Linked DNA regions of Homo sapiens: regions 1, 3, 4, 5 and 6 are each reported to be linked to region 2. Evidence: microRNA targets listed by miRTarBase, many of them from high-throughput screens and not tested one by one. Region 2 holds a microRNA gene; each other region holds the end of a gene's coding sequence.
What was found. Region 2 holds the annotated microRNA hsa-miR-484 (UCAGGCUCAGUCCCCUCCCGAU, at 2,211-2,232, shown strand). A microRNA usually pairs through its seed, bases 2 to 8, with sites in the 3' UTR of a target mRNA and lowers its output. Matches are read on the target gene's strand: a 7mer-m8 pairs with bases 2 to 8, a 7mer-A1 pairs with bases 2 to 7 and ends in A, and an 8mer does both.

Region 1: the mRNA of RPN2 is a reported target of hsa-miR-484. The part of its 3' UTR that is shown has no 7-base or 8-base seed match.
Region 3: the mRNA of HK2 is a reported target of hsa-miR-484. Seed matches in the 3' UTR shown: 8mer at 2,228-2,235 and 8mer at 2,129-2,136.
Region 4: miRTarBase lists RTRAF as a target of hsa-miR-484. The part of its 3' UTR that is shown has no 7-base or 8-base seed match.
Region 5: the mRNA of MOB4 is a reported target of hsa-miR-484. Seed matches in the 3' UTR shown: 7mer-m8 at 706-712 and 7mer-A1 at 261-267.
Region 6: the mRNA of SQSTM1 is a reported target of hsa-miR-484. The part of its 3' UTR that is shown has no 7-base or 8-base seed match.

The regions. Positions count from the first base shown.
Region 1 is chr20:37,240,951-37,244,048 of GRCh38, forward strand. RPN2 (ribophorin II) reads left to right here. Exons shown (of 17, transcript NM_002951.5): 17 at 353-669. The coding sequence ends at 365. Among named protein-coding and RNA genes, the nearest start is that of GHRH, 19 kb to the right of the region's middle.
Region 2 is chr16:15,641,091-15,644,193 of GRCh38, forward strand. MIR484 (microRNA 484) reads left to right here and starts at 2,204; the gene lies at 2,204-2,282. It overlaps MARF1 (meiosis regulator and mRNA stability factor 1), which reads right to left and starts at 2,064. Exons shown (of 27, transcript NM_014647.4): 1 at 1,928-2,064. It also overlaps a transcript of NDE1 not described here.
Region 3 is chr2:74,890,428-74,893,530 of GRCh38, reverse strand. HK2 (hexokinase 2) reads right to left here. Exons shown (of 18, transcript NM_000189.5): 18 at 172-2,734. The coding sequence ends at 2,590. Among named protein-coding and RNA genes, the nearest start is that of LINC01291, 17 kb to the left of the region's middle.
Region 4 is chr14:52,003,904-52,007,006 of GRCh38, reverse strand. RTRAF (RNA transcription, translation and transport factor) reads right to left here. Exons shown (of 8, transcript NM_016039.3): 7 at 2,765-2,813; 8 at 1-2,645. The coding sequence ends at 2,491. It overlaps NID2 (nidogen 2), which reads left to right. Exons shown (of 22, transcript NM_007361.4): 20 at 347-470; 21 at 1,158-1,270; 22 at 1,511-2,198. The coding sequence ends at 1,521. Among named protein-coding and RNA genes, the nearest start is that of RTRAF, 16 kb to the right of the region's middle.
Region 5 is chr2:197,550,416-197,553,504 of GRCh38, reverse strand. MOB4 (MOB family member 4, phocein) reads right to left here. Exons shown (of 8, transcript NM_015387.5): 8 at 1-2,990. The coding sequence ends at 2,859. HSPE1-MOB4 (HSPE1-MOB4 readthrough) reads right to left here. Exons shown (of 9, transcript NM_001202485.2): 9 at 1-2,990. The coding sequence ends at 2,859. Among named protein-coding and RNA genes, the nearest start is that of MOB4, 36 kb to the right of the region's middle.
Region 6 is chr5:179,836,319-179,839,421 of GRCh38, reverse strand. It overlaps SQSTM1 (sequestosome 1), which reads right to left. Exons shown (of 8, transcript NM_003900.5): 8 at 1,344-2,986. The coding sequence ends at 2,829. It overlaps MRNIP (MRN complex interacting protein), which reads left to right. Exons shown (of 7, transcript NM_016175.4): 7 at 1,537-2,146. The coding sequence ends at 2,031. Among named protein-coding and RNA genes, the nearest start is that of SQSTM1, 17 kb to the right of the region's middle. RefSeq lists enhancers at 2,428-2,577, 2,359-2,653.

The DNA.
Region 1 (3,098 bases), not on the chromosome of region 2:
GTTCATCTAATTGAAATTTACACTGTGTTTTTGGCCTTGCACTGTGAGAGGTGTGCCTGGAATTACCTCATCTCCTTATGTTGTCACATACCACTTTCTTAGTTATTATTGAGTTTGTTTTGTTATTTGTATTTAAGTTGTCATCAGCTTAATTATGAACTAGCTGTCTCACATTCTTTTGTAAAATGAGATGGGGCATACATAAATAGACTTGGGAGATAAATGATTATTCCCTTATAAATGGGATCTTAGAGCGGGAGAGTACCTTAGTCTCTCTGTTGTCACCAGTTAGGAACTGTAACTGTGAACTGAAACCTTCAGTAATTCTGTGTTTGTCTCCATTTTCTTTCAGAACAGCACATTAGTTCCAGAAGAAAGATGGAAATTCTGAAAACTGAATGTCAAGAAAAGGAGTCAAGAACAATTCACAGTATGAGAAGAAAAATGGAAAAAAAAAACTTTATTTAAAAAAGAAAAAAGTCCAGATTGTAGTTATACTTTTGCTTGTTTTTCAGTTTCCCCAACACACAGCAGATACCTGGTGAGCTCAGATAGTCTCTTTCTCTGACACTGTGTAAGAAGCTGTGAATATTCCTAACTTACCCAGATGTTGCTTTTGAAAAGTTGAAATGTGTAATTGTTTTGGAATAAAGAGGGTAACAATAGGAACAAAGGCCTGATTGAGAGCTTATTCTCATACTTTTGGGTGGTGGGGTCCTTGGGTATATGACATGAGGACTTAGTTGGAAATGCTGTTGATGCCAGCATATTTCTCCAGGCCTTTCTTGGTCCTTCTTGCCCCTTGCTCCTAACAGAACTGAGAACTGCCTGGAAAGGCCAGCTTCCTTTTTTCTTCTCCAGCAGTGAGCACCAGCTGTCTGCATAGGAGCCCTGTTGGTATCTGAAGGCCCCATTTGGACCTCTAGGGGTCCAAGGGGATAGGTTTTTATCCCCTTTAACATTTTCTGTGAGCTGAGTCCCATTTTTGAGAATCTTTCTGTGTTAGGTTAGATACTGAGTGTGACTTGGCAAGAACACAGCTAAACAACAGGAATGTGCAGGTGGACTGCAGCTAGGACCTCTGCTCAAGGCTCTTGTCTTGGGGCCAGGCATGGAGGCTCACGTCCGTAATCCCAGCACTTTGGAAGGCCGAGGCAGGGGGATCACTTGAAGTCAGGAGTTTTGAGACCAGCCTGGCCAACATGGTGAAACCCTGTCTCTACTAAAAAACCAAAATTAGCCAAGGGGTGGGCATGGTGGTGCATGCCTGTAATCCCAGCTACTTGGGAGGCTGAGGCAGGAGAACAGCTTGAACTTGGGAGGCGGAGGTTGCGGTGAGCCATTGCACTCCAGCCTGGGCCACAGAGCCAGACTCCATCTCCAAAAAAAAAAAAAAAAAAAAAGACTTGCATGGAGATTTGTTGCAACATGAATTTTCAAGGGACACAAATTCAAACCATAGCACTGACCACTTGAGTGACTTTAGTCTAGAAGGCCACATCTCAAGAATGCCCCCTCTGAAGTTGTGCCCATTACATGAGGTTATATAATAGCACAGAGAGAAGTAATACTGCATAGCATGGTTGACTGCGTAGACTTTGGTTCCAGGCAAACCTAGTGTTGCCACTTACTAGGGTGAGGGACCTTGGGCAAGTAGTTTAACCTCCGTAAACCTCCTTTTGTGTTTCTGTAAAAGAGAGATGATAACTACCTACCTCATAGGATTAAAGGAGTTGAATGCTGACGCAGCTTAGCACTTGGCATCTTTCCTGATTGACCTACGGTTATGTGCCTTGGCCCATTGCCTCTAGTTCTAGAATGGCAAAAACTGCAATTACTTTTGCACCAACCTAATATTAATTGAAACATAATAAGTTTAGTTAACTTGTGAAATATGGTAATCCTCATAGTATTTATTGAATTGGGGGTCTGGAAGTTGTTTTATTTTAATCAGATTGCTTCCCAACTAGCTGGACCTTACTACAGTGAAGAAATTGGGATTTTGATTGGGAAAAAGGGAAAGAAGATTCTAGAACTCTATGCCGTTCTGAATGGGATCCTATAGGTAAGAGGATGATGTGGGCAGTTACAGGGATGCCTCTAAGATGGGAAGGAGGCTTCTCCTTCCCAGAGGTTGCAAACTTGTGATCTGTAGTGTTTTTTTAAAAATTGAGTAAGTTGCCAACATTTGAAGACAGATTTTATATAAAAATCTTGGTTTTGGATTCTGGATTCTCCTGAAAGAGAAAACTAGAGCTGTCCACGGCGGGCCTGATTCCTGAACGGCAGCAGTCAGCTGACACTGAATAGCAGCTCGTCCCTTTGGATGGAGCCTGCAAGCTCCAGCTTGTCAGCCCCTCCCCGCACAGGTGTCCACATACAGGACACTTGCGCCAGTCCACCTGGCGACTGTGCTTCTCTGATACCTGCCTGGCTCCCATAGGCATATACCTTTGGGATCCTCCACTTTTTAGTTTCTTATCCCACTCGGAGGGGAAGGGGTGATGGTGGTTTCCTGTTGCTCTTGGGCGGCTCCTAGTGTTCCTACTTAGGTGTGCTGGGACCTCAGCCGCTCAGACTGGAGAGGAAAGAGAGCCCCAGCAGCGTGTGGGATGAGAGCAGGGACACTTGCCACCTATCACCAGACCTGTGCGGGCCTGGAAGACAGACTGGGTGCGGGGCTGGTGGACAGTGGTGTGGAGCAGGGGTAGTAGGGCCTGAGGGTGGAAGTACAAAGGCTGCTGGGTGTCCTGGTCACTGGGAACAAAGGACAGCCAGTGGCTGGAAGGAAGGAAGTCGGGAAACAGCTTTTTGGAGAAACGGCTGGCACAGCTAAGTAAGGGGTTCCCGGGCTGGTTTGGGGCTGGCCTGCAGACTCAGATGGGAGCTGGAGAACAGAGCCCAGTAAACATTGCCATGTGCCAGGCTGTGTTCTGTGTCCAGAGCTACCACAGGGAGCAAGACAGATCCAGTCCCTTCCCTTGGTCCAGGTACAGCCCACGGGCACCCAGCTGAGGGAGAAAGGAAGCAGTGATCACACATGTGAGAAGGGCCTCAGAGGAAGCAGTTCTTACCTTGATGGCTTGGGAGGTCTCAGC
Region 2 (3,103 bases):
TCTCTAAAAAAATTTTTGTTTTCAAGTTTCTGTTTCCTCCTATGCAAAATGTGGCTAATTTCTCCCCGCCACTGCATTACAGAGAAAAAAAAAATTAGATAAATGAACCCCACTGTCTATTTTCACCACTGTATCTCTTGTGCCAACCAAAATGCTCCCTACTCTGTAAATACAAAGTAAACATTACCTACTACACACTATTGGGAGTGGTTAATTTGGAGATGGATTTAACTGCTACCACTGATAGTAAATTACGATTCTTGTCTTTCCTATTAGATACAGGTTTTATGTCCCCCAAAAAACTCCTCTCAAAATCGTAAGAATCTGTGATATTCACAGTGTTCATAACTTAAACATTCTCTCAAACTTCTTCAAAGCCAAATCCTGAAAGTGAGCTAACATTCACAGTATAATCTAGTTTATAAAGTATTTTCACTTAACATTACTTATGTCTTCATTCAGCAAATATTTACTTAGTATCTACTATGCAGCAGGCCTGTGCTTGGCACAAGGAATATAATGATGAAAAAAACCCAGACGGTGGGATCCTCTTATATAATTTTTGCAATAATCCTGTGAAATAGACAGGGGAGAAATTAGCTACATTTTTGCAGAGAGAGAAAAAGAAACTTAATGAAGTTTTGTAGCGAGCCTGACACAAGATTAGGCTTGTTCACCCCTTTCCACTACATCAAGGTGCCTTCAATACTGCTCAATACAAGCGATTAAAAGTAAAAACTTTCAGGTGCCTGCACCCTGAAAACTTCCCAAATACCATCCACGAAGCAACTTAGGTAGCCAAAAGCAGGTTCTGTTTGACTTGAGCGACAGTCTCCTTTCTGTCACTCTCTTCAAGTCTTTTGACCAATTCAATGAGGAGAGCATAGGCTCTGTCGACTGTCTGCATTTTGGTCTCCAATTTGACTGCGGTGCAGCTTTGGACAACTCACAACCTCTCTGAACCTCAGATCCCATCTCTAAAATGGGTGTGATAATAATAGAAACCACCTTACAAGGCCGTTGTTTGGATTACATGAGGTAATCCACGGGGAACATTTAGCAAATGTTGTTTCCTTAGCACCCAATCTAGTCTTTGACCCCACACCACCCCATCCCATTACCGTTTTCTCCCCCATAGCTCTTCTGTCCAAAACGGCCTTTTTAGCTTATTTTATTATCTTTCTCCCCCATTAGGCTATAAACTCCATGACAGCAGAGACTATGTTTTCTTATCCACTATTCCAACTCCTGTCCTTAGTACAATGCCTGGCATATTTTAATAAATAACTGTTGAACGAATAAAGCTTAATAAATAGGAAAACAGTTTAGGTTTCAATACACCGATATGCAAAAGAGAAGAATATTTACCGCTCAGAGAAGTCCAAAAGACACAAATGCAATTGGACAGCTCTTGGTAATACCGGAAAGGTGCTTGAGAAACTCTAAAAGGTGTATCACGAGGTCGCGTTACAACTACTAGTGAGAGTGGCTGAAGCCCTAGACATTGTCAACCCTGAGACTACACCCTATGTGTTGCTAAAAGGCCGAGGAGAATGCAAAACGGCCGGGGAGGGGGGAGTGTGTTGCAAAAACACCCGCCCCTTTCCTTCTCTCTTAACCTTCCAGCTGTGCACTTCACTCCTGGAGGGCCCCACCAGGGGTCAGACAGGGGCGGGCGGGGAGCCAAATGCCCTCGAAGGGGAACAGCGGCGCCAACAGTGACAGTAGTGAATGGACCCGAAAGGGAGACAAGCCAACTCTTTCGTGGGGGGCCCAACTGGCGCGTCCCAGTTAGCTAACCTCCCCTCTCCACCACCATCCCACCAGCAATAGGCGGGGAAAGAGGGGACACTGTCCTCCGTCCCGCCCCGCTGGCCTCGGAGCAGAGCCTGCCGGGGTCTGGTCGCAGGACTGTCTGCAAACTCACCTCTGCCGCCGGCTCCACCTCCGCTCACATTCCGGCCCCGCCGCCTTCCCCCCGCCCCCCCCAGGCCCTTTGTTTTGATTCCCGACTCCGCAGCTCCCGCCGCCGCCGCCAAGCGCACCCTTCACTTCCGCTTCCGCACCGCACCGCCCCTGTCGCAAAACCGACGCCCTTCTCTCCTCTTCGCCCCGCCCCTTCCTCGCCCCGCCTCCGCCGCCGCGTCCTGTCCGCGCGGGGCATGCTGGGAACCCCGGGGGGGGCGGGGCCTCGCGGCCCTGCAGCCTCGTCAGGCTCAGTCCCCTCCCGATAAACCCCTAAATAGGGACTTTCCCGGGGGGTGACCCTGGCTTTTTTGGCGAAAACCCCCAGTTTAAGGAGGCCTTCCCCCTGGCTTCACGTTGTGGAGTCGAAAGGAACCTTGAAGCGGAGAATGAGCTCGTGACGTGGACCCGAGGAAAAAACCTGCCAACCAGGATTTAATAGAATTCAGCTCTTTCAGGCTTTGGAGGGAAGGCGATTTGAACGGGATTTCAATGAAAAACCCTGTCCCTTCGGCTTTTTTTTTTTCCTCTCTCGGGTCTCGTCACGTGATGGTCCTACTTTATTTTTAAAAATTAAATGGCGCATATTCCCCAGCATCCTAAATCTAGTGCAACCTAGTGGCAAGTGGAGAAAAAAATAACTGCCAACCTGGCTTCCTACGAGGTCCCCCGGAGTTCTCGCAAAGTTGCGACCCAGTTGGCAAAAATACAGTGTGTGCAAAGACTCAACTGGACATTGCCACCAAGAATCAAGAGATTTTTGGGGACTTTAGCAAGAAAACGTTATTTTTAAAAGCCCTGCTCCAAAGCTGGTTACAAATGAATACTGCGTTTCCAGTGACAGGTTGGGCGAGCAGAAAGGAAATCTTACGGTTAGTTTCAAACACTTTGTGTTTTAGGTGGCCAGATATGCTGTGTGGTTTGCTTTAAAAAAAAAAATAGCGCCCCACAATCTTCACGTTTCCCTGGAATAAAAAAAAATTTAAGACTCAGCAAAAGGGTGATTTCTGAAACTACCAGCTGATTACTATTTTCTGTTGCAAATTAGGAAAAAAGCAAAGCACATATTGTGTAAGTTAAATCTAGACACGATTTAGGATGTGCTAGCTGCTAGCTAAATGCTACCTTAGGAGTTTAT
Region 3 (3,103 bases), not on the chromosome of region 2:
CAGGAAAAGCTGCCTTCTAATTCCACTGGGACTGAGTTTCTGGAAAAGCCACATGCCTCTCAAACACACACACTCAAAATCAAGACACCCATAAATTACTCATCGGGCTGGCCAGGAAGTACTGATACGACCGGAAGATGACTACTCTCTTAAAAACACTCATGAATCACATTTGATTATTTTGGAAAATGTTAAAATTTATTAATAATAGTTAACATCACATAGTTAATTAAACTAGTTATGTATTGTACATAATGACAACATCTTCACTAGACTGAGTGCTCAAGGATTTGAGATGATTCGCTATTCATCACACCCCGAAGATTGAGATCCACTGTATTTACACAAAGCAAAGCCATGTCAGCAAGGGACTGTCAACCTGATTCTGAGAACATAAACATTCAAAATTTATTTTCCAGTGTTCCTTTTTGGAAACCAACAACACATCTTTAATACCTACACACACACACATCTCTACCTTTAAAAAAAAAAAAAAAAGTGTAACTTCACAGATAGTACCTAATCTTCAAGCTTAAAATTTAAGTTAAAATTAATCTCTATTTTGTGGGCACCCTTTAGTGAACTAAAATCTACATGAAACCTTTTGGCTTTTGTGTAGCAGGAAATACCCACGTTTTGGGTCAATTAGTGCAGATGGGAGCAGCAGAGGAGCTACACCAGACAGCAAAGCAAGACTAGAGCAAACGAGAAGGACCAGCCCCTAGCCCCTCTGTGCTCCCGGGAGGACCTGGGCTGTTTTCACCTAATTACACCCAACTTTGCTTAAAAGTCGTATAATCAGACACTATTCTCAGCACAAGTTTGATAAATATACAAAAACCAGGTTCAATTTCATCGTGAGTTTCTTTCCATTCTGATCCTTGTATCCAATTCAATAGTTACATCCCTCTTTATCATATAGTATCCAGGTTTAATGTCTGTGCTTGTTTGTATTTTAGGACAGAGGCGGGCTTTCAGATTCAGAATCAACTGCACTCTTGAAAAGTAGGGATGGAAGTTTTTAAGCCACTCTCATCCCTCCCAATAGTTTGAAATAAATGTTGTGTATAAAAAAAAGAAAAACACAAAAACAGGTCAGCAGACCAATGCCAGCTCAGCCTAGGGAAGCACATGGACAATTCTTGTAAAACATTTAAAATACAAACCCAAGGTGAAACTTGCTGGGAGGGCTCAAATACACCAAAAATGTTGTCCCTGAGGTTTTATTTGGCTGTTTAATTGTTCTGTTTTGGTTTGTTGTTGAGGATTAGATACAATTTAAAAAAAGAAATTTTGGTGACTTCCTTTATCTTGTCAGAAAGCTTTAGAATACTACTGACTGCCCTAAGAATAAAGATTTCTAAGCCATGAGTCCATTTGAAACGATTCCTTTGGTTTCCTTTGCTTAACATCCCATGGAATACTGCCAAGAAAATCTCTAGATGGAGGAGCCAATTGCTGTGGTCTCTTCAGTCTATTGGCTCGGCCTCCATCTCTGTCCCTGCCTTCCACACACTTCCAAGACCACAGGGGAAGGAGGAGCCAGAAGCAACCGCTTTGCCATTCACTCACCCTGAAGAGGCTTCCCTTCTCTTCCCACAGGCGAATGAGGTATTTCTATGACTAGTCAGTATCTTCCCCTTCTGCCCTTTAACTACACTGAGGCCAATTCTGACAAGACTTGCACATCTATATACATAACAAATTAACATATAAATACATTACGTACAACTGACCATTCATTACATGTCAAGATGAAGAAGCAGATCTACTCAAGAACTAAATAAAATTTCAAATATAAATTAAAATGAAAATACAGTGATTCCACTTTTGCAGGAAAAATTTGTAAAACAAACTAAAAACTCCCCCTTCCCCAAAGGTCCATTGCTTGTGGATAACATGTGCGCCCCGCTGAGATGCGACAGCTGGCCCAACTGCAGGATGCGTCAACTCCTGGCTTTGGTTTCATTGCCCAGACTCAGGATTCCTTGATTCCAGGAATGGCAAATGCTGGAATCCACAGGGCAAATGCTTGTAGATGAGGTTAAAGAGGGGCTGCTGCGTGGATATCCATGGATTTTCCTCCACTGTCACCCCTCCACCCTCCCCACGTCTGCCTATAGGATAATCAGGCTCACATCCTCAGTGGAGACCTCCCAGATCTCTGACAGGAGAATCAGTAACAACATCAGTGCTGGGGGATGCACCCCACTTAGAAATGTCATGTTCAGGCTCCAAGGTGAAGCAACCGTATCTTCATTAGTGTCCCCATCCTGTAGAATTATACAGGGACATGGAATTTGGCAAGGGGGATTACTAAGGGAGATAATTTTCATGTTTTAGGAGAACCAATGGGAATGGTTATGATGCATGTGAACAAATCCTTATTTGGAACTCTATTTATCTTAATAGGGCCAAGCTCAGCCACCAAGCTCTACAATGAGATGCAGAGACAAAACCCAGTCCAGTGGGGTCCTCTCTGCCAAGCAAAAGCCAAGGGGTCTGTCTCTGACACAAGGGGATGACATCTTATAATTTAAAACAGGGAAGAAGGAGAGAAAGAGGAAGTCCCTTCCGATTTCAGGGGTTCTATCGCTGTCCAGCCTCACGGATGCGGCAGGCCACAGCAGTGATGAGCGCCGCCCCCTTCCCGCTGCCATCCTCTGACTGCAGGAAAGACACATCACATTTCGGAGCCAGGTCCTTCACTGTCTCATGCATGACTTTGGCAAAGCTGGAAAAGGTGGGAGGAAGACACAGGAAAAACCATCTTAGTCATGATTGGTTTGTATTTGCACTTAGAAATGAAAGCTAAGAAGCGATGCTGGAAACACAGAAATAATTAAGAAGAGGAGAAGGATGACAGCTATAATGTATTAAACATTTACTATATATTATTAAGTACCAGAAAACCGTGGCTTGGAGACACTAGTACTATGCCCAATTTCCACATCATATCAGCCATTAGGAGAGCTAGGATTCAATTCTGGGACAAACGTCTGAGATCCTGGCAAACTGTGTTCTTAAAACTAATAGTCAGTAAAAGAGAAGTTCAACAACCATGGAAGCCACAAGTGTGCCTAACAGAGGAGCACAACTCTGG
Region 4 (3,103 bases), not on the chromosome of region 2:
ATAGCTTACAAAGGGCAAGTATTTACCCAGATGTTATAATTTATAAGCTAAGGCTTGAAATCACACAAATTATAAAAATAATTATGTTTAATGCCCTACTTTGGCAGAAACTTACCAGATTTCAGTAAATGCAATCCTGTCTTCCAAAAAAGGATTGAAAGTTTGAATCTCTACTAAAAACTGGAGACTAGTAATAGGACAGGTAATTTTACAGTTGCTAATCTATGACTGTAATGGAAGTAAAATATCCTATTTCCCCATTCTATCACTGTGTCACTATCACTATGTCACTATCATTTTTGGCAAAGCAGCTGAAGGACCTCATTTTCCCCCTTTGTTTTAAAAGGAACCAAAAAACTGGAGTGTACACTACCTGATGGAACTGGACGGCGTGTCATTCAAAACAACCTCAAGTACCCCTTCAGCATCGTAAGCTATGCAGATCACTTCTACCACACAGACTGGAGGAGGTGAGCCCCACAAATTCTGGACAAGCCTGAAAAGGCCAACTGTTCCAGAGGACACACCACTTGTTTTACCAAAAGTCAGTACCTGACTTGACTCATTAAGCCCTCTGAGGCTTTTGTTTCATCACCTCCTCATTGGCAGATAAGATCCTTCAAGGATGTTTTTCATCCTTTCATGTTTTTGAAATCATCCTTTTACTTCACCCAGAAATCGAATGGTATTGCTCACATATAGCTTAAAAAGTAGCAAAGCTATTGGATAATGTCTCAAAAGGGAGCATATTAATCTAAATATGTTCTTTAGAGAATAAGACTACCCTTGATACCATGAGCTATATTACAGGGCTTAAGTTGGCTTTTGACACTGTGGACATATTGTCTGAGGGACCGAAAAATACTATTTAGACTAGTTCTCAAATGAGGAACTGTGGAACATTAAAGTCTAAGCCCTTTACACCATGCCCTACAACTCTGATTTGATAGCTCATCATGTGATTCTAACATGCAGCTAGAGATGAGCAATGGATTTAGAGCAATGGTCTTCAAACTTCAGTATGGCTTTAGCACCAGCCCTGGGACAGAGAAGGCTGCCAGAAATTTTCCTCTATTGCAACTGATTTTCTGTGGCTGACTGACTTCTTTATCTAGTAAATGACTGTCCCTGAATTCACTCTTCCTTTCTGTTACCAGGGATGGTGTTGTATCAGTAAATAAACATAGTGGCCAGTTTACTGATGAGTATCTCCCAGAACAACGATCTCACCTCTACGGGATAACTGCAGTCTACCCCTACTGCCCAACAGGTAAAAAGTATGCTTTAGGATGCTCCTTTAAATTAGCAGGGTAGAGAAGGGATATATATGGTATTTGATTACCCCTGCTGCCTGTGACACTGCCACCATTGCCTTCTTCCTGCCCTGAGGGCCAGTCTTTACTACCTTAAATCTACCTAGTTTATACACAAAATGCAAAGACTTGCTGTTGCAACTTGGTTACAATATACTCACCCACCACCCTGTCCCACCCCTGCTCTTCTCTCACAGGAAGAAAGTAAGTACAGTAATGTAAAGGAAGACTTGGAGTTTACAATCAGAACCTGGACCCTAAAGAACAGTGACTGCAAAGGCAAAGAAAGTAAAAAAGGAATTGGCCATTAGACGTTCCTGAGCATCCAAGATGAACATTTTGTAGTGCAAAAAGACTTTTGTGAAAAGCTGATACCTCAATCTTTACTACTGTATTTTTAAAAATGAAGGTTGTTATTGCAAGTTTAAAAAGGTAACAGAATTTTAACTGTTGCTTATTAAAGCAACTTCTTGTAAACATTTATCATTAATATTTAAAAGATCAAATTCATTCAACTAAGAATTAGAGTTTAAGACTCTAAACCTGATTTTTGCCATGGATTCCTTCTGGCCAAGAAATTAAAGCACATGTGATCAATATAACAATATAATCCTAAACCTTGACAGTTGGAGAAGCCAATGCAGAACTGATGGGAAAGGACCAATTATTTATAGTTTCCCAACAAAAGTTCTAAGATTTTTTACCTCTGCATCAGTGCATTTCTATTTATATCAAAAGGTGCTAAAATGATTCAATTTGCATTTTCTGATCCTGTAGTGCCTCTATAGAAGTACCCACAGAAAGTAAAGTATCACATTTATAAATACCAAAGATGTAACAATTTTAAAATTTTCTAGATTACTCCAATAAAGTGTTTTAAGTTTTCCTATGACTTAAGGATCTATATTGTCTCTAGGACAAAGCTGGGGGTTGGCATATATGCCTTAACCACAAAGGAGAAAGGTGATTTATGCAAACATACAGTACATAATAAAAATTCTACTTTCCTAAACTTTATTAAAGAAAAAAGCAATAAGCAATGGTGGTAAATCTCTAGAACATACCCAATTTTCTGGGCTTCCTCCCCCGAGAATGTGACATTTTGATTTCCAAACATGCCAGAAGTGTATGGTTCCCAACTGTACTAAGTAGGTGAGAAGCTGAAGTCCTCAAGTGTTCATCTTCCAACTTTTCCCAGTCTGTGGTCTGTCTTTGGATCAGCAATAATTGCCTGAACAGCTACTATGGCTTCGTTGATTTTTGTCTGTAGCTCTCTGAGCTCCTCTATGTGCAGCAATCGCAGAATTTGAGCAGCTTCATTAAGAACTGCATCTGTTTTATGAGAAAAGAACACTGCTTCAATACATAATTTTTACATTTAAGGCCATTTATTTCCTCCCAAGTATTCAGTCTGTAAAAAAAATAGTTTGAATTTAAACAAAATCACTTACCTCCTGTGTCAAAACCAAGAATATGTTTGTCTAAAGCAACAGGTAAGCCCTTTAAAAAAAGAAAGACAAAATGAGAGTATTTATGGTTAAGAATAGCATCCTTTCCTCAACTGAAACTGAAAAGCACCTAGCTATTCTGGTGTCTTAACTCTTTTAGCTGCATGGGCAAGGGAACTAGGAATTTTGTTTATATTTGCTTTGTGATGATTGTGATTAGCGAGTTTTCCCTATTTCAACCGGTTAGGGGGAAAAGTTAACCTTTAAATGTACCAGGAAGCTCTATAGCTCATCCAATCCTTTAGCCCAGGCATACAAAACAATATATCCTTATTGCAGCAG
Region 5 (3,089 bases), not on the chromosome of region 2:
TTTGACATCAACCAATAAATGTGTTTATAATCGTAACACAGTCCTTACTAACAATGTAATCAAGGATTTTTTTTTTTTGAGACGGAGTTTTTGAGACGGAGTTTTGCTCGTTACCCAGGCTGGAGTGCAATGGCACGATCTCAGCTCACCGCAACCTCCACCTCCCGGGTTCAAGCGATTCTCCTGCCTCAGCCTCACGAGTAGCACCACGCCCGGCTAATTTTTGTATTTTTAGTAGAGACAGGGTTTCTCCATGTTGGTCAGGCTGGTCTCGAACTCCTGACCTCAGGTGATCTGTCTGCCTTGGCTTCCCAAAGTGCTGGGATTACAGGCGTGAGCCCCTGTGCCTGACCAAGGATTTCTAATTGTATTCTGATAGTAAAAGTTGTTAAGTCATCAAGAATTTAACTGAGAAACTGTTCTAGAAATCCAAATTTGACATCTCAAGTCAGAGAAAAGGAAATGTATACACACAAAAGAAGGGTTACTTATGGGAACATAAATAGTTAAAAGTTAGCTACTTTCCCAGATGTGATAGGAGAAAAAGAATGAATTGACTATACGATCTTTTGGAAAGAAAAGCCTAAGTTTACCTTCGGATATACATAGGGTAATTCAAACAAAAAGTGGAGCCTAACTTCCTTATCACACAGAACTGTCTTGTTCCCCTCTTAGAACACTTACTTTTATAAATCAATGGTTTGCCAGGCTCATTAATTTTTTAGTAGTATTTATGTATATATAAGTACATTTTCAAAATTCTGAAAACAGTATTAAGGAAAAACAGGAACTGTTTCACTTAGGTCTTACCTAGTATAGTAGTGAATCAACTTCACAATTAGTAAGATTATCAACATGAATACAAAAGCAAGACTACAAACTGATTATTTTCTTTTGGAGATGTTTTATGATCAATTCCAAACATACAGTACAGGGAAGGTGAAATGAGTAAGAAAAAAAAATCATATTTAAGTCCCCGTTAACACTAAGCCATATTATTCAAAATGTGTTTCAAAATACTCAGCCAGATCACCAAATCTCAGTCACTACCTTAGTATAAATATTCACTAAGAAAATAGTCAAGCAACAGAAATCCATTGTGAGACACCATCTAGAGAGAACAGCTACACTGCTATATATAATTTATTAACTTAGTAGTTTAGTTTCTCAATATTTAGCAAGTTTAAAAATTACCATTACCATTGGTTTATAGTGCCATTAATATAAATCCATAATTTCAAAGTCATCATTCCTTTCACTGTGAACTAAGACTTCTTAAAAGATAGTTGTGGGTTGGGGAACAGTAATGACTGTAGCTGATGGGCAGTGTTCAAAGCCAAAAAGACTGGCAAGCTTGGAAAGGCATACACTATACATACACACACTCTCAGTATACTACTGTTCCCCTTATTTTTGCTGTACATTCTTGTCTGAAAAGATGGTATAAATTATTCCCTTAAATTTGAAAAAACAATTAAGATGAATACATTTTCATCTTCAAAATTATCCTTCTAAATAAAAAAGTTCCTCATGTTTGTTAAATCTGTTCAAAAGTTGGATTTAAATACTTTCTTCACAACATGTACAATGTTTTCACCCTTACTGCCTCATTACAATCAGTTTGGCAATAAGACCTCCAGTGCTTTATCAAAAATGGCATTCAATAGATTATAAGATTGTTAAATCTGCATTTCAATCATTCTTACCACAATGAATTATAACAAAGTCCAAAAAAATGTATGACTATTCATCAACACCCTTGGAACCTATGAATTATTGCAAATAATCTCACACGTGCATGTAATCCAAACATAAACTTCGTGGGAGAGGGGGTGTAAAATAAATACTATGGTATTTCTTCAATTCTATTTAATGCTGCCTAGCTGGTTAAATGAAAGATTAATATATTACTAACAGGAAGAGTCAAACTATTTTAAGGACTGTTTTCTAAGTAGAACAATTTTGCAAAACAAAGATAAGCAAGAGCCTATGCAAATACATTTTCTTGTAGTGTAATGTAATTGCTAATATGAGGTATAATCTGTAAGCAATTAATACAAATATAAATAGGTATAAGCCACCACTAACTCAGTCTGGTGAAAAGCTTCTCAGCTAAAGTAGTTTGAAGATAAGGTTAAGGGAAATGAGAAGGGGTGGACAGGGCAGGTTTCCAGTGGGAAAATAATTTATGTGCCTTACCATTGTGATCATCCTGTATGTACCAGTCCGTTGTTGCAGAACGGTAAATCCTTTCCAAGTATGTTATACTTTATGTAGCACAGTAAAATTATTTAAGTATTACTAATGCTTCATTTGCATTTGTATTTAGATATACACATAATTATATATGCATATCAAAAACTATAAACAGAATTTTAAAACACTTTTATCTCAATTGGGGAAAGTTAACAGGTAAGACAAAACTACGTACTACAGAATTTTTTAGGATATCTAAACTCAAGGTAAAACCAATAGAAAACATTTCTACCTCTTTAGTAAATGGCTTGTGTGAAACCTCAAGCTCTCCCTCATTTTTTTTACAGATGGGTTTGTCTGATGAGGATTGTGATCCAATGATTGTTTAGCAGCAATTTTACCAAACTGTAAATTCTTTTATTAACAGGCATTATAAACAGATAATACTAATCTTATTTAAAAACCATGAGTGCCACACTGGTGAATATACAGCTTATGAATAACTTAAAAAGTATTTCCCATTTTAAAAGGCAAACCCAGCATACAAAAACCTATACTAAACAAAGAAGCTATAATATGGATACATGATTGATGTGTCTAAAATGATATATACAGTACATAATGTTAATTATATGATCAGTACATTTTTCCTATGATTCCCTTCATGCTTCACTTTCCCCAGAAACTGAATTCTGTACTTCCTCTTCTAAAATTGGTACAATCAGGTTATCCTTGGACATCAAATTGTATTTCATCACAAACTTAGTAAACCGATGACACAAAAATGTTTCATTCTGTAGAGAGGAAGACAAAAATGTTATTTTAATTCACTATCCCAAACTAAAAGACTAGAAATAACATCAATATATATTACTGTTACACTGATAAGAATG
Region 6 (3,103 bases), not on the chromosome of region 2:
GTGCAGTCATGGCAAGTTCAGTGGCAAAGCCAACGTCAAGTTTCAGGGCCGCAGAGCCTCTTCTGTACTGCCTGGGTGGCAGTGCTGCAGGGACCCACTCTATCGCTGCTTTCACATTGCTTTTCCCTTTGTAAGCAGCACAACCCAACTGTTGTTTTTTTTTTTTTTTTGAGTAGGAGTTTCACTCTTGTTCCCCTGGCTGGAGTGTAATGGCACGATCTTGGCTCACTGCAACCTCCGCCTCCCAGGTTCAAGCGATTCTCCTGCCTCAGCCTCCTGAGTAGCTGGGATTACAGGCACCCGCCACCACGCCTGGCTAATTTTTGTATTTTTAGTAGAGACAGGGCTTCCCCATGTTGGCCAGGCTGGTCTTGAACTCCTGACCTCAAGTGATCCACCCGCCTCGGCCTCCCAAAGTACTGGGATTACAGGCATGAGCCACTGCACCCAGCCTTTTGTTTTTGAGATGGGGTGTCACTCTGTCACCTAGGCTGGAGTGCAATGGTACAATCACACCTCATAGCAGCCTCCATCTCCCGGGCTTAAGTGATCCTCCCGAGCAGCTGGGATCACAGGCACTCACCACCACAGTTGGCTAATTTTTTGTAGAAGAGGGGGTTTCACCATGTTGCCCAAACTGGTGTCAAACTCCTGGGCTCAAGCAATCTGCCTGCCTCAGCCTCCCAAAGTGCTGGGATTCAGGCATGAGCCACTGCTCCCAGCCTACAACCCAACTTTCTTTTTTTTGAGACAGAGTTCGCTCTGTTGCCTAGGCTGGAGTGGAATGGCGTGATTTCGGCTCACTGCAACCTCTGCCTCCCAGGTTCAAGTGATTCTCCTGCCTCAGCCTCCCGAGTAGCTGAGATTACAGGCGCGTGCCACCACGCCAGGTTAATTTTTGTATTTTTAGTAGTGATAGGGTTTCGCCATGTTGGCCAGGTTGATCTCGAACTCCTGGCCTCAGGTGATCTACCTGCCTTGGCCTCCCAAAGTGCTGGGATTACAGGCGTGAGCCACTGCGCCCGGCCGACACCCAACTTTCAGAGCATCTTTGGTTCCTGGGGTGAGAGAAGCCAGACCCCAGCACCAGTCCTATCCCACAGGGAGCTCGGTGCTGCCACCTCTGCAGCTGCAGAACCCGGCAGGCTCTGGAGAGCTGCCCCCCGGTGGGAGGTAGCAGAATGGAGCCAGCGCACCCCTTTCCCGATGTCTCGAGGCCCTTCTGCTCAAAATTCTTTTGTAGGCACCGGTAACCTGATTCTAAGGTCCCCAGGAGATGGATCACCTGATGACATGAGAATGTCTTGTTTTTGGAAAGCCTGGTCATGCAATTTAGCAGAAGGTTTGCGGTGAGGTGGAAGGCATTTATTTGCTTTGTCTTGCTAACCCTCAAAATCAAAGCCTGTCCCAGCCTGACAGCTTCCAGCAGAAAGTGTCAGAACCAGAGGCCCAGCCAAGGCCCAGGCAGGGCAGGCGGTCCTCCTGGGCCCTGGCATTGTTCTTACACATGGAGGGCATGGCCATCTTCTCTTTCAGGGACAGGCTGGCCTGACATGGAAGGTGAAACAAGGCAGCAGCCCCTGCCTCCAGGAGAACTCTGCAGACTGCAGTGCCGGGGAGCTGAGGGGTCCTGGGAAGGAGCTATGGAGTCCCATCCAGCAGGTTACAGCCACATCCTCTAAATGGGCGCAATTTGTCCTGCCACCTAGAAAAAGTTCACATGTGGACAGTGAGCAGCCAAGGTCTCTTCAGAGGGACCCCAGGCCAGCTGGTCCAGCACAGGCTAAGCAAGGGACCCCCAGAGCACAGGCCTCAAGAGAAGGCCTCAGCAGGCCCACTGCCGCTGTCCAGCTTCCTCGGGCCACACACCCCGTCACATCTGGGTCTGAGAGGCCTTGCGGGAAGACCTCATGGGACGCAAGGACTCCCTGGGCAGAGGGTGGGCCCCTGGTCCTGGAGGCACAGAATCCTCGACCCACACGACTATGTGACCTCTTTATAACTGGGGAAGACTTCGATGATGATGTGTGATCTGGGACTGGCAGGTTATTAATCGAGATACACTTGTTAGGAGGGACAGGGTTCCCCTAAGGCACTTTTAAAGATACTCTGTAAGAACCATTAACAATAAACTTACTGTCAATCATTTCTCTCTATGCAAACGTCATTGGTTAAAGTGCTGATGCCATTTAATTAGATTGTTTACAAATTTAACAGGATGGCTACAAAGAGATCTTATTTTAAAAGCAGCTGATGGTTTGGAAATGAGAGAACTACAGTGGTGAAGAGACCAGGAGGCAGCTCTCAGTGAAACCAACATTGCGGATGCCCTTCGTGAGCCTTCTCAGTCCCAGCAGGAAGCCCACAACACTGGCCTCCCCAGCCTGCCTGCTGACAACACCTAGGCTTACTTTATCTAAAATCAGAGTGTACCAGGTCTGTAGCAGAAAATAATCAACTAAATGTCAGGGACCTATGAGTCATTTAAAACAAAAGAGAAAGTGAAAGCCATTAGGCAAGCTATGTGCTGGGCTGCTAACGTAGCCCCTGCAGGGAGGGGTCAGGAGCGCGCTGCAGTGAGCCTTGGGTCTCGCAGGCCCAGCCCTGCTGCAAGGAGCCAGGGCACCCAGGAAACATCAGCACACACACACACAGGGACCCTCCCTTCATGTCACTTGTTTTGCTGCCCTAAATGGCTTCTTGCACCCTAACCCCTGATCCTGGAAGAAGGCAGAGAAACTGGCCCGTACAGAGACCTGCAATTCTACGCAAGCTTAACACAACTATGAGACAGAAGAGGGGCACGCAGAAGAGGTGGGCAAAAGTGGTCACAACGGCGGGGGATGCTTTGAATACTGGATGGTGTCCAGAGCCGCTCCGATGTCATAGTTCTTGGTCTGCAGGAGCCTGGTGAGCCAGCCGCCTTCATCAGAGAAGCCCATGGACAGCATCTGGGAGAGGGACTCAATCAGCCGCGGGTCAGCCTCTGCCGAAACAGTAAGGAAGCCATGAGGAGTGGTGCTGAGCCCTGTGAGTGACCCGAAACACATACCCTGCTGCCTTGGCCAGCCAGGACCAGGGTCTGCCAGTGTCCGAGCCTGCC